Homo sapiens: one gene and its partners. The protein of the gene in region 2 purifies or fractionates together with the protein of the main gene of each other region. This does not show direct contact. Each region holds a gene or a part of one and is shown on either strand. Other genes may lie near its edges.

The links.
Region 1: the proteins of TOB2 (region 2) and CPEB3 purify together in Homo sapiens (co-immunoprecipitation; one study listed by IntAct). This does not show direct contact.
Region 3: the proteins of TOB2 (region 2) and PAN2 purify together in Homo sapiens (affinity purification with western blotting, with the first as the bait; one study listed by BioGRID). This does not show direct contact.

What each region holds. Positions count from the first base shown.
Region 1 is NC_000010.11:92,280,943-92,284,588, forward strand, and holds part of CPEB3 (cytoplasmic polyadenylation element-binding protein 3), read right to left. Parts: intron 1-3,646. UniProt on the Homo sapiens protein: Sequence-specific RNA-binding protein which acts as a translational repressor in the basal unstimulated state but, following neuronal stimulation, acts as a translational activator.
Region 2 is NC_000022.11:41,443,984-41,448,082, forward strand, and holds the start of TOB2 (protein Tob2), read right to left. Parts: upstream 2,819-4,099; 5' UTR 2,396-2,818; exon of another isoform or gene 1,310-2,395; intron 1,290-1,309; exon of another isoform or gene 129-1,289; intron 1-128. UniProt on the Homo sapiens protein: Anti-proliferative protein inhibits cell cycle progression from the G0/G1 to S phases.
Region 3 is NC_000012.12:56,320,408-56,324,053, forward strand, and holds part of PAN2 (PAN2-PAN3 deadenylation complex catalytic subunit PAN2), read right to left. Parts: coding exon 3,642-3,646; coding exon of another isoform or gene 3,630-3,641; intron 3,507-3,629; coding exon 3,400-3,506; intron 3,192-3,399; coding exon 3,093-3,191; intron 2,978-3,092; coding exon 2,904-2,977; intron 2,803-2,903; coding exon 2,655-2,802; intron 2,352-2,654; coding exon 2,208-2,351; intron 2,076-2,207; coding exon 2,016-2,075; intron 1,762-2,015; coding exon 1,671-1,761; intron 1-1,670. UniProt on the Homo sapiens protein: Catalytic subunit of the poly(A)-nuclease (PAN) deadenylation complex, one of two cytoplasmic mRNA deadenylases involved in general and miRNA-mediated mRNA turnover.

The DNA of each region.
Region 1 (3,646 bases), on a different chromosome or scaffold from region 2:
AGAGACAGGGTTTCACCATGTTGGTCAGACTGGTCTCGAACTCCTGATCTCAGGTGATCCACCTGCCTCAGCCTCCCAAAGTGCTGGGATTACAGGCATGAACCACCACGCCCGGCGATGGTGAGCATCTTTTCATGTGCTTACTATTTGCTTATCTTTGGAGAAATGTCTTTTCCAATTTCTTTTTCCCCAATTTAAAGACGGACAAAGGACCTTAAAAGACATTTCTTCAAATAATTTTTTGGGGAAGAAATGTCTTTTTAGGTCCTTTGTCTGTTTTTAAATTGGGCTTTTTTTGGGTTTGGTTTTTGGGCGGGGGTGCAGGAGGGGTTGGTAGAGACACAATCTCTCTATGTTGCCCAGGCTGGTTTTGAACTCCTTGCCTCAACTGATTCTCCCATCTTGCCTCCCAAAGTGCAGGGACTACAGGCGTGAGCCACCACGCTGGCCTTTTTAAAATTGTTCAGTTGTAATAAATTTTTATATATTCTAAATATAAGTCCCTTTTCAGATACAGGATTTCTAAACATTTTCTCCCTTTCTGTGGGTTGCTGTTTCACTACGATGGTATCCTTCGCAGCACAAATATTTTGAATTTTGATTGTCAGTCTCTCTTTCAGGTAAAAATAGTGTGCCACAAAAAAGCAACCAGTTCAGTTTGCATCTTAATTGTATCTATTATCATACTTTGGATACAGAAGTATGCATACTGCCCACTTTATCATATAGATTGTTAAAAATATGTGTATCTAAAAGTCAAGGTTAATAAAATGAGTATCTTCTACTGTTTAATCATGGACATTAAGTGAAACTAGTTTTGTTTTGTTTTCTTTTTGCATGCACATGGTAATGAAAACTATGATCATTACTACTATTGGTTCCAATGTCTTGAATGGTGCTAAGGTGCAGAGTTTTATCTACTGTTGCCGGTGCCATCAGTGTAAATGCTAACGCAGTGAAAAATGCAAATAATGTTTTACTACTATTATGAAATAGTCTTGACTTCACATGTTCCGTGGAAAGGGTCTCAGAGAACCCTGGGGTCTGCAAGGCCATACTTTGAGAACTGCTGCTCTATGAAATCCATGCTTGTTTAAAAAGCAAAATAATTCTTTACATATACATTTTCTTATAAAATTGATACTTCAGGAACAAGCTACAGAAAGTTTCTCTGCCCTCGACCATTGCATGGCCCAGGGATACATAAGCCAAAGAGAGGAATGTAAGCAAGGATAATGAAAAGTAATGGGTCTCCCACCATATTTATAAGGAGAAAGCAAAATTGACAGATGATATTGATTTATGAAATTTTGTAAATATCTACCCCATTACAGTGAATATATGCAGATAAGATTCTATTCTCTGGGTAGCAAATGAAGATAGGTTTCAAACAGTCCTCTATAAGTAGCAAGTGAAGCCTCTCTCTAGAACTAAGAAACTAAAGTCAAATCAAAGTAACACTGTAGGCCAGGTGCAGTGGCTCACGCCTGTAATCCCAGCACTTTGGGAGGCCAAGGCAGGTGGATCACTAGGTCAGGAGTTTGAGACCAGCCTGACCAACATGGTAAAACCCCATCTCTACTAAAAATACAAAAATTAGCCAGGTGTGGTGGCGCGTGCCTGTAATCCCAAACTCAGGAGGCTGAAGCAGGAGAATTGCTTGAACAGGGAGATGGACATTGCAGTGAGCCAAGACTGCACCACTGTACTCCAGCCTGGGTGACAGAGCAAGATCCCATCTCAAAAAAAAAAGAAAGAAAAAAACATAATACCGTAGATGTTAAACCAGTAAAACATATTCTGGGGACCAAAGTCTCCTCTTAATGTCCTTTAGAGAGCAACAGGGACATTATCTACTTCAACTACTTAACCTATATAAGGATCATCAAAAACTAATAGCCATGTTAAAGCAAACTTCTGAAAATGCTTACAGACCATGGTCAAGTTACTGAGACCTAGCCGAGGCTTAACTTATTTCTGTTTCCAACCCACCATACATACCACTCCAAGATTAATCCCCTAAATCAGCCAGGCACAGTGGTTCATGCCTGTAATCCCAGAACTTTGGGAGGCCAAGGCAGGTGGATCACTTCAGCTGAGGAATTTGAGGACAGTTTGGGCAACATGGCGAAACCCTGTCTCTACAAAAAATACAAAATATTATCTGGGCATGGTGGCGTGTGCCTGTAGTCCTAGCTACTCAGGAGGCTGAGGTGGGAGGATCACCTGAGCCCGGTAGGCAAGGCCACAGTGAGCCATGATTTCACCACTGCACTCCAGCCTGGGTGACAGTGAGACTCTCTCAAAAATAAAAATAAAAATAAAAATCCCCTAAATCACCCTCACCTTTACTGAAGAACTTTCAGTAATAATTATTAAGAGCCCTTAACCACATGTCTGGCCTTGTACTGAACAATTTAAATGAATTTTCTCATTTATTCCTCCCAGGAATTCAAAAAGGGAGGATCTATAATTCTCCCCACTTCCGCTGGAGATGAAGAATCTGACTAAAAGAGATTCTGTAACCTGCCCAAATCAAATCACCAAGCTTCTGAGTATCAATGTTAAGACTCAAACCTATGTTATCTTTGCAGAGATTCTCTAACATTAATAATCACTTAGAGAACTTGTTAAAAAGACAGCTAATTAGGCACCACTGCAGGGCACACAGATCAAAATTTCCAGGGCAGTTCTCTGACTCATAGCAGGTTTAGGAACCACTACAAGTTAACTTCCCAGTTCCTACAGAATGGGGTCTATTTCTTTTTTCTTTTTCTTTCTTTTTTTTTTTTTTTTTTTTTTGAGACAAGGTCTCACTCTGTGGCCCAGGCTGGAGTGCAGTGGTGCAATCTCGGCTCACTGCAACCTCTGCCTCCCCAGTTCAAGCAATTCTCCTGCCTCAGCCTCCCGAGTAGCTGGGATTACAGGTCCTCGCCACCACACCTGGCTATTTTTTTGTATTTTTAGTAGAGACGGGGTTTCACCATGTTGTCCAGGGTGGTCGCGAACTCCTGACCTCAGGTGATCCACCTGCCTCAGCCTCCCAAGTGCTGGGATTACAGGTGTGAGCCACTGTGCCCGGCCCAGAATGGGGTCTCTTTTTTTTTTTTTTCCTGAGACAGAGTCTCACTCTGTCACCAGGCTGGAGTGCAGTGGTGCAATCTCGGCTCACTGCAACCTCCGCCTCCAGGGTTCAAGCAATTCTCCTGCCTTAGCCTCTTGACTAGCTGGGACTACAGGCACACACCACCACACCCAGCTAATTTTTGTATTTTTAGTAGAGACGGAGTTTCACCATTTTGGCCAGGATGGTCTCCATCTCTTGACCTCGTCATCCGCCCGCCTCAGCCTCCCAAAGTGCTGGGATTACATGCATGAGCCACCACGCCCGGCCAGAATGGGGTCTATTTCTTACGCCTAAACCCTCCCACAAGCAGCTTCCTCCTCTCCTAGGGTAGGGCAAAATTCCTTAAACTGGCCTACAAAGCTCTTTGTTTCACAGCCTTTCACTCACTGATATTTTTGGTTTTCTCTTGCCTCAAGATCTCCTTTCTGTTTCAGTTTCTTCTATTCATCATTTCCTTCACAAGGCATTTGTACACGCTGTTCTTTGGCCTGGAATGTTCTTCCCTCTTCCCTTTATCTA
Region 2 (4,099 bases):
TGGAATCCACTGAGCCCCAAACCCAAAAAGATACTCAGACACCTCTAAGCCTTAAATGTGCAAACTGTCCTACAATGACGGACTACAGGACTCAACTAAGTGTGGAGGGGCCAGCAGGTGTCACAGACCGGGTGGATGCGAGTGCCCTGCCGCTGTCCGGGGAGTGAGAGCCAAACGCAGGCAGCTCCTCTCCTTGGTGAGACACGGGATCCGCCCCAACTCGCTGGTCCCAGAGGCAGCGGCCCAGACAGGCGGGTGTGTATTGAAAGGCTTCCAGGACTGGTGCTGACTGACTGCAACACCGCGCCCAGTCTCTCATCATCTCCCCCTAGACACAGACCGGTCAACCTTAGGTCTGACAACAAGGCCCCTTTCGGCTATGAAGACCCTTTCTAGGGCACTCCATGTTCCTCAGGAGCTAGGAAAACTCGACTCAACCCAAACGTAGGCGGAGAGGCGGGCGGTGAGGGCCCGCTCTGCACTCTGGGAATTGTAGTCCTCAAACACCTCCGGACCAGGCGATAGCAGGAGTGACCTACTTTCCCTGCACACTACACTTCCCTGAGCACTTTGCGAAGGCCCAACTGGCCGCAATACGCATGCCCGGTAAGGGGAGCCGACCGAGGGTCGAAGAGCCCAGGAAAAGTTTCCGATGCACATGCGCGCTGAGGCGGGTCGGCGCCCCCCTCCCATCGCCTAATACATTTCATGTAGATTCTACCCAAAAGGCCTACTCCCCGTATTGTATGGCCCCACCACATCCTCTAGGCTTTACGAGAGCCTAACTTTCCCACCTTTCCCTTCATCGCCTCCCATTACTGATGAAACTAGGATCTGCTTCTAATGAGTTTTTTCTGGGTGAAGGGGGTGGGCTGGCTTAGATAAGGTCACGACCCCCTTCCCCCCACCCAATCTGAATTCCAGGGCCTGGGCGGTCCGTGTGGGGTTGCTGGATGGACGGTGGATTCAAAGGGAAACGGATCTTTTTCACTTAATGCCTAGCGGACTCGGCTCCAGCACCCCAAACAGCCAGGAAAGGAAAGGCAGGAATCAAACCCAGTTCTCCCGTCCTCTCGGCCAAAGAAATTTCCAGTCAAGCTGTGGGGAGGCGCCAGGCCAAGGCCAGCAGGGCCCAAGCCTCACCCCATTTCTAATCGAAGACTGAGTAACCAGATCCGGGAGAGGGAAATAGGAAAAGGTTCCCAGGCAGAGAAGAAAAAAACTGTACACCTGACACCTGAGCATCTTCTCATACTAAAATTCTGTGTGTCTCCTCCCATTGCAAGGTCTGCTTTACGACCAGACTTACCAGATCCTCGGCAAGCTCCCCCGCTGGGTGTTAAACCTCCTTAATCCTTCCTCCCACACAAGCTTCTTTCCCCCTATGCTTCACGGAGGGATGGGGGTAGAAGCCCAAGAAAGCAATAGGATTGTTTTTCTGCCGGAAAATCAGAGATGAAGGACCCATTCCCAGGGTACGGTGGGTAAGAAGGAGAAAAAGACCGTTTAGATACGGAGTAGCACCAGAGACTGGCCTCCACCCGTCCCCAAGCTGAAGCTTGCTGTGCGGGGTTCTGGTTTCTCCTGGGGGAGGGAGAGGGCCTGCCGGCTGTGCCTCCTCTCTGCACCCTCCTTCCCCTCCCAGATTTCTGGTGGTCAAGGGCACAGTTCATCCTCCGGACAGGAGGGGAAGGAGTTTGGGGGTAGGGCCCCACCTCGCAGGCACCTTACCAAGATAAGCAGAATCCACTCACTGGCACTGCTCTAAGGGTACTTTTTTCTGCCCAATTTTCCATTAAAACACTTAAGAGTATAAAGAGCTCAGCCGAAACGGTGAACTCTGGCTCAGTGGCCCAAGGACAATCTCCACTGACCTGTCCCGTCGCCAAAGGGGGTGTCCACCCTCCACCCTTCAGGCTCCACAGAGCCAGAAATAGAGTCTATTAACAATTACCACCCCCCTTCCCTGCACACGGGAAAAGAAGCAGAAAAACAAGGCCTGGATCCCCTTCCTTCCTCGGATTTATTTAACGGTGGGGGGAGTTATGTTTCTTTGGAGAACAAGGAAGATCTAGCGAGTAGCTAGGATATAAAGAACCGGGGGAGGCGGGGAAGGGAGGAAATGCACCCCACCCAGGAGAGGGCCACTCTTGGAACTGGGAGAAAAAGGAGCTCTTGGGCACCCCAGGAGCACAGATGGCGTGAGAAGAGGAGCTGGGGAAAGTGGGGTCTGGAGGGAAGCTGGATGGGGAAAGAAAATGCTGGCCAGGCGGGGAGGGAGCGGCAGCAACGTGGAGAGTCCAGCAAAGCGGGAGTGGGGCGGGGTGGAAGAGGTAGTCCGGCCGGCTGGGTCTCGGGGCGGGCCCCCCGCCCGCACGCCCCCCAACTCACTCACTCGGGTCTCCGCGGCGGCGGGGCGCTCTACCGGCCGCGGGGCGGCTTCTCCCTCCAGGGTGGCCTGAGCGCGGGGCGGAGGTCGCTCTCCTTTCCTTCCCGGGCGTCGCCGGGCCAGGGGACCGAAGTCCTTTTCGTCGTTGAGGGTTGGGGGACGAAGCAGGGGGCTATGGACTATGACTCTCAATAATTTCTTTCAGCTCTTAGGAGGTCGGGCTCGGCAGCGGGGGGCCCGAGGGCGGGCGGGCGGACTAGCGGCGACGACGCGGGGATGGCGGATCGGAGGGTGGTTCGTGTCGCGCAACGGCAGACGGTATGGGCTGTCGCCGGCAGACGGTCCTGCCCTCCTGGCCCCGCGTCGCCCGAGCCACGGCTTGCCTCAGCCAACAACCCGCACCTTCCCGCGCCCCGGCCCGAAGTGAGCAAAGTCAATGAAAAGTTTCACCCTTAGCAACCCTGCGCACGGATCCGGCTTCCCCACCCCTGCGTGATGCGTCCCTCCGCCCTGCAGGGGCGGGGCCAGGGCCCGGCCGGGACTACTTCCCAGCCAGCCCCGCGCCTCAGCTCGCTGGTATCTCGCGGAGCAGCTCCTGTGCCCTTCTGTGCTCGCCGGTCGTGCGTCCGGCTCCCCGTCTTCCCCTCCCTGTCACAGCGCCGCGCCGCACTCCTTTCCTTCATTCCCATACCACTCTGAACTTGTGCGCGTCGTGTGAGGTGTTCTCCCAGGGGCGCTCCGTGAGGGCCGGGGACCACCTGGGGCCGGGTTGCTCACGAGCCGGGCACAGTGCACTCTCCCTTTAGTTGTGTTTGGGGGACGAGTATCGCGGGGGAGGGGAGGGAGTCACCATGCCCGCCGGAAACCCCCCGCTGAGTCGTCCGCCCTGCACCTGCCTCGGAGCCCATGGTTCGGACGTTTGCCCGAGCCGTTTCCCGGGGCCTTCCCTCCAGCTCCGAGCGTCTGGCCGTGTCCGCGGCGATAGCATCGCCCCGTTACGGCCTCTGCGGGAGGGGGAACTGAGGGGACGACGCGGGCTCTGGAAACATTTCGGACCCGTTTCGGGCAGGCATGAGTCTTCCGAGCGCCTTGTGATTCCTCGGGGGGCTCAACGTCGAAAGAAAGGCGAGGGAGACTCTGGGGCCTGGGCCACGCTGTGCGGGAGTAAGAGGAGCCGAGGACGAGGCTGACGGCCGTGAAACTAGCCGAGTGCCACAAAGGACCTTCCCCTCACCGCCTCTGGCGCTCCTTTCCTTGCAGCCTGGAGGGCCGGCTCTGGCTCTGCGCAGGCGCGCGGGCGCAGCCCCTCTCCCAACTCTTGTTTGCTCTTTCTGGCCAGCGACCCCAGTGTGGGGCACGCGGGAGAGCCCCACATTTCTTCTAGTCGCAGTCCCGCCGGCGTGGGGTGGCCCCTGACCGTGCAACGGGCGCAAGGCTCGCACCCACTACGGCCCCTCGGGCGGCGGAGCGAGGCTCCGCGAACCCGGGACTGGGCGCGCCAGGCCCGCGCGCTGAGGCCCCCTCCCCCGGCTCTGGCCACGCGGGCTGCTCTGCCTCTGTGAGTGTGCGGGACACAGAGCCAGGGGGAGGGAGGGCCGTGTTCTGCGGTCACAGGCAGACAGGAGTGCCGGAAGATGCAGTCTGGAGCCCCCGGGGGACTGTGAGTGAGGTCTTCTCCCCGGTCCCTCCTTAGATCTCCCATTTCCCAGT
Region 3 (3,646 bases), on a different chromosome or scaffold from region 2:
CGGGCGGATCACCTGAGGTCAGGAGTTTGAGACCAGCCTGCCCAACATGGTGAAACCCCGTCTCTACTAATTAGACACAAAAAAAAATTAGCCGGGCGTGGTGGCACATGCCTGTAATCCCAGCTACTTGGGAGGCTGAGGCAGGGGAATCGCTTGAACCCGGGAGGCAGAGGTCGCAGTGAGCTGAGATCATGCCATTGCACTCCAGCCTGGGCAACAAGAGCGAAACTCTGTCTCAAAAAAAAGAATAATTAGATGTAACATCATAACCTAAGCCATTCTGATCAAACATCCCCCCCTCATCTCATTTCCACTCCACTCTCAAGACTTACAGCTGCTTTTTTTTTTTTTTTTTTTTTTTAAGACAGGGTCTCAGGCTGGGCACTGTGGCTCACGCCTGTAAACCCAGCACTTTGGAAGGCCAAGGAGGGTGGATCACGAGGTCAGGAGTTCAAGACCAACCTGGCCAACATGGTGAAACCCTGTCTCTACTAAAAATACAAAAAATTAGCCGGACATGGTGGCAGGTGCCTGTAGTCCCAGCTACTCGGGAGGCTGAGGCAGGAGAACTGCTTGAACCCGGGAGGTGGAGGTCGCAGTGAGCCAAAATTGTGCCATTGCACTCCAGCCTGGGTGACAAGAGTGAAACTCTGTCCAAAAAAAAAAAAAAAAGCAGTCTCATCCTGTTGCCCAGGCTGGAGTACACTGGTGCAATCATGGCTCACTCACTGCAGCCTTGACCTCCTGGGCTCAAGTGATCCTCCCGCCTCAGCTTCTCCAATAGCTGGGACCACAAGTATATGCCACCACACTCAGCTAAATTTTTTTTTTTTTTTTTGAGACAGGGTTTCACTCTCGTCACCCAGGCTGGAGTGCAATGATGCAATCTTGACTCACTGAAATCTCTGACTCCCAGGCTGAAGTGATTCTCCTGCCTCAGCCTCCCAAGTAGCTGGGACAACAGGAGCACATCACCATACCCAGCTACTTTTTGTATTTTTTGTAGAGACAGGGTTTCACCATGTTGCCCAAACTGGTTTTGAACTCTTGAGCTCAAGTGATCTGCCCGCCTCAGCCTCCCAAAATGCTGGGATTACAGGCCATAAGCCACTGTGCCTGGCCTATACTAGGCTAATTAAAAAAAAAAAAAAAATTTTTTTAGGCTGGGTGTAGTTGCTCACGCCTGTAATCCCAGCACTTTGGGAGGCTGAGGCGGGCAGATCATGAGGTCAGGAGTTCGAGGCCAGCCTGACCAACATGGTGAAACCCTGTCTCTACTAAAAATACAAAAAAATTAGCCGGGTGTGGTGGTGGGCGTCTGTAATCCCAGCTACTCAGGAGGCTGAGGCAGGAGAATCGCTTGAACCCAGGAGGCAGAGGTTGCAGTGAGCCGAGATTGCGCAATTGCACTCCAGCCTGGGTGACAGAGCAAGACTGCATCTCAAAAAAAAAAAAAAAATTTTTTTTCAAAGAGATGGGATCTTGCTATGTTGCTCAGGCTGGATTTCGCACTTCTAAATTTAAGGTCTGATGAGCAGGAATCTCTTTAGTATCTCCAGAAATATTAACACTGGTTACCAATCCTAAGTACTTGCAAGCAATGTCCCAGATCTCACCCTGAAGCCCAATCTAAACTGTCCACACACTTGGGTCTACTATGTAGCACTTACTGTTCAGGTTGTATCTGGAATTGAGATTCCGTTTGACATAATAAAGGATTGCAGGTACTTTCCAATTCATGTCAAACTGCACAGCTTCATGCTATAGAAGAGAAAAAGCACTTATGGCTAATGTATATCACCCTTTTCCTTTTCCCCCACTTCAGACGGAGGCCAGGACTCAGGTGCTAGTTTTTGTTTTTTTTCAGGTGCTATTTTTAAGTGCTAATGGTTTTTATTCCTGAGGATTCCTTCCTCCCTCCCTGTTGAATCTGCCTGGCATTCTATAGAGCCCTAAAGATAAGGATGCTAGGAAAAGGGGAAATGAAAGAAGAAACAGAACATGTTGCAACTAACCTTATCAATAGGTTCAATAAGAAAGTCATTGAACAGATACCACTGCTGGTGAGTAACGCCCTATGGAAATACAAAGAAAGCCTGTGGCGATACAAATTGATGGCTGGACCACTCTGTCTCAGACTCAAGGACAGATCTGGGACTCACTGTGGCCATCCCAGGAGTGTTCCTGCCCTCTACAACCTCACTCACCTCCTTGCGCTGGTGGTAGGTCTCTCCAACTTTGATGTGAGCCACCAGGCTGCCCCCTGTGCGTGAGTCCAGGATGTGTACCACAGTAGCCATCAGGTCATACACATAGACACCATGCTCCTCCTCTGCCCTGGCTGGGCCCCACTGTGAGGGGGGTACCCAGGCTGCTAAGCTAAGTTTAAGGATGGGGAAGGGAGGGGAATGGGGACAGAGGACAGGGAGTTGGGGGTATGGGGGATGGGGGACCAGGGTGGGTTATCTCCATCCTAGCCCATCTAGGACCCCAACACTGAACTGAGTGACTATGGAAAATCCCCTAACAGGTAAATACTAGGCCTTATTCTCTTCCTTTTCCCTCTGCTAAGTTTCACCTTCCCCTGCCCTCCTTTACCTTCTGCCCCACCTTCTCTCCCTTATTCCCTTTCCTCTTCCCGGTTTTTCAACAACCTGCATCTCATCCCCATCAGTCCAATTGCAAACATCCAGCCCTTTGTTTTTGGTCATCTTCATGCGAATGGAGAAAGGAAGCCAGACGTTCTTCAACTCCTCAATGGAGGGACACACCAGCACACCCTCTGGACTCCCTAGTTCCTTCCTATCAGGTCAGAAGAATTGGAAATTTGTTCCGAAAGAGGTCTTGATAAGAGGAACCACTGGGCAATTCAATCCTTTGACAACTCCCAAGACAGCACCTACCAATCAGCCAAAGCAAATTCCTTGTTCTTGGAGATTTCCCCACCGTGTTTCTTTACTGCCATCTTGAAGGCAACCTGAACACAGAAGAAAAACATCCAGTTCTTCAGGAATGTAATCATATATGGAGGTCAGAAGGGGGATAAAATGAAAAATTATTCCGGAAGCCTTGTTTCTAGTCTGAGTCCTTACCTCAGCCTGCATTCTCCAGAAATCAGCCTCTTTTGAGCTGTTCACCTCACAATTGATGACAAGAATATCTGGCAGATGGCGGATGTTGCGGGTCTGAATCTGAGAGGAAGAAACAAACAAGGAATGGCAGGGAATGTACAGGAAAAGGAGTCTGGACAGGGACCTGGGTCTGCGTCTTCAAACTGGGATTCCTCACTCCACCAGAGATCCCTGGATGGCAGTGCTGACAGAGCCAGCCCCACATGGGATAGTGGCTGAATCTCCATGGCAGGACCAGGACTCTAGTCCAGTCCAACAGTCCACTCACCGTGGGCTGGTACTTTTCACAGGTGTCACACCAGGCCTGTGTATTCTGGTCCAGGCAGATGCTTCGCTTCAGCACCTGAGCAAAGTCATAGTTCTTCCCAGTTTTATCTGAGGGAAAATTAGATGCTATACTCCTGGTTCTCCCCTCTACCCACAGTTAGTCCCCAACACCCTCTCCCTGATATTACAGGACATTTTGGGGAGCCTTCCCAACTGAGCTGAAGGGTATACCACTTTTGCTACCATCA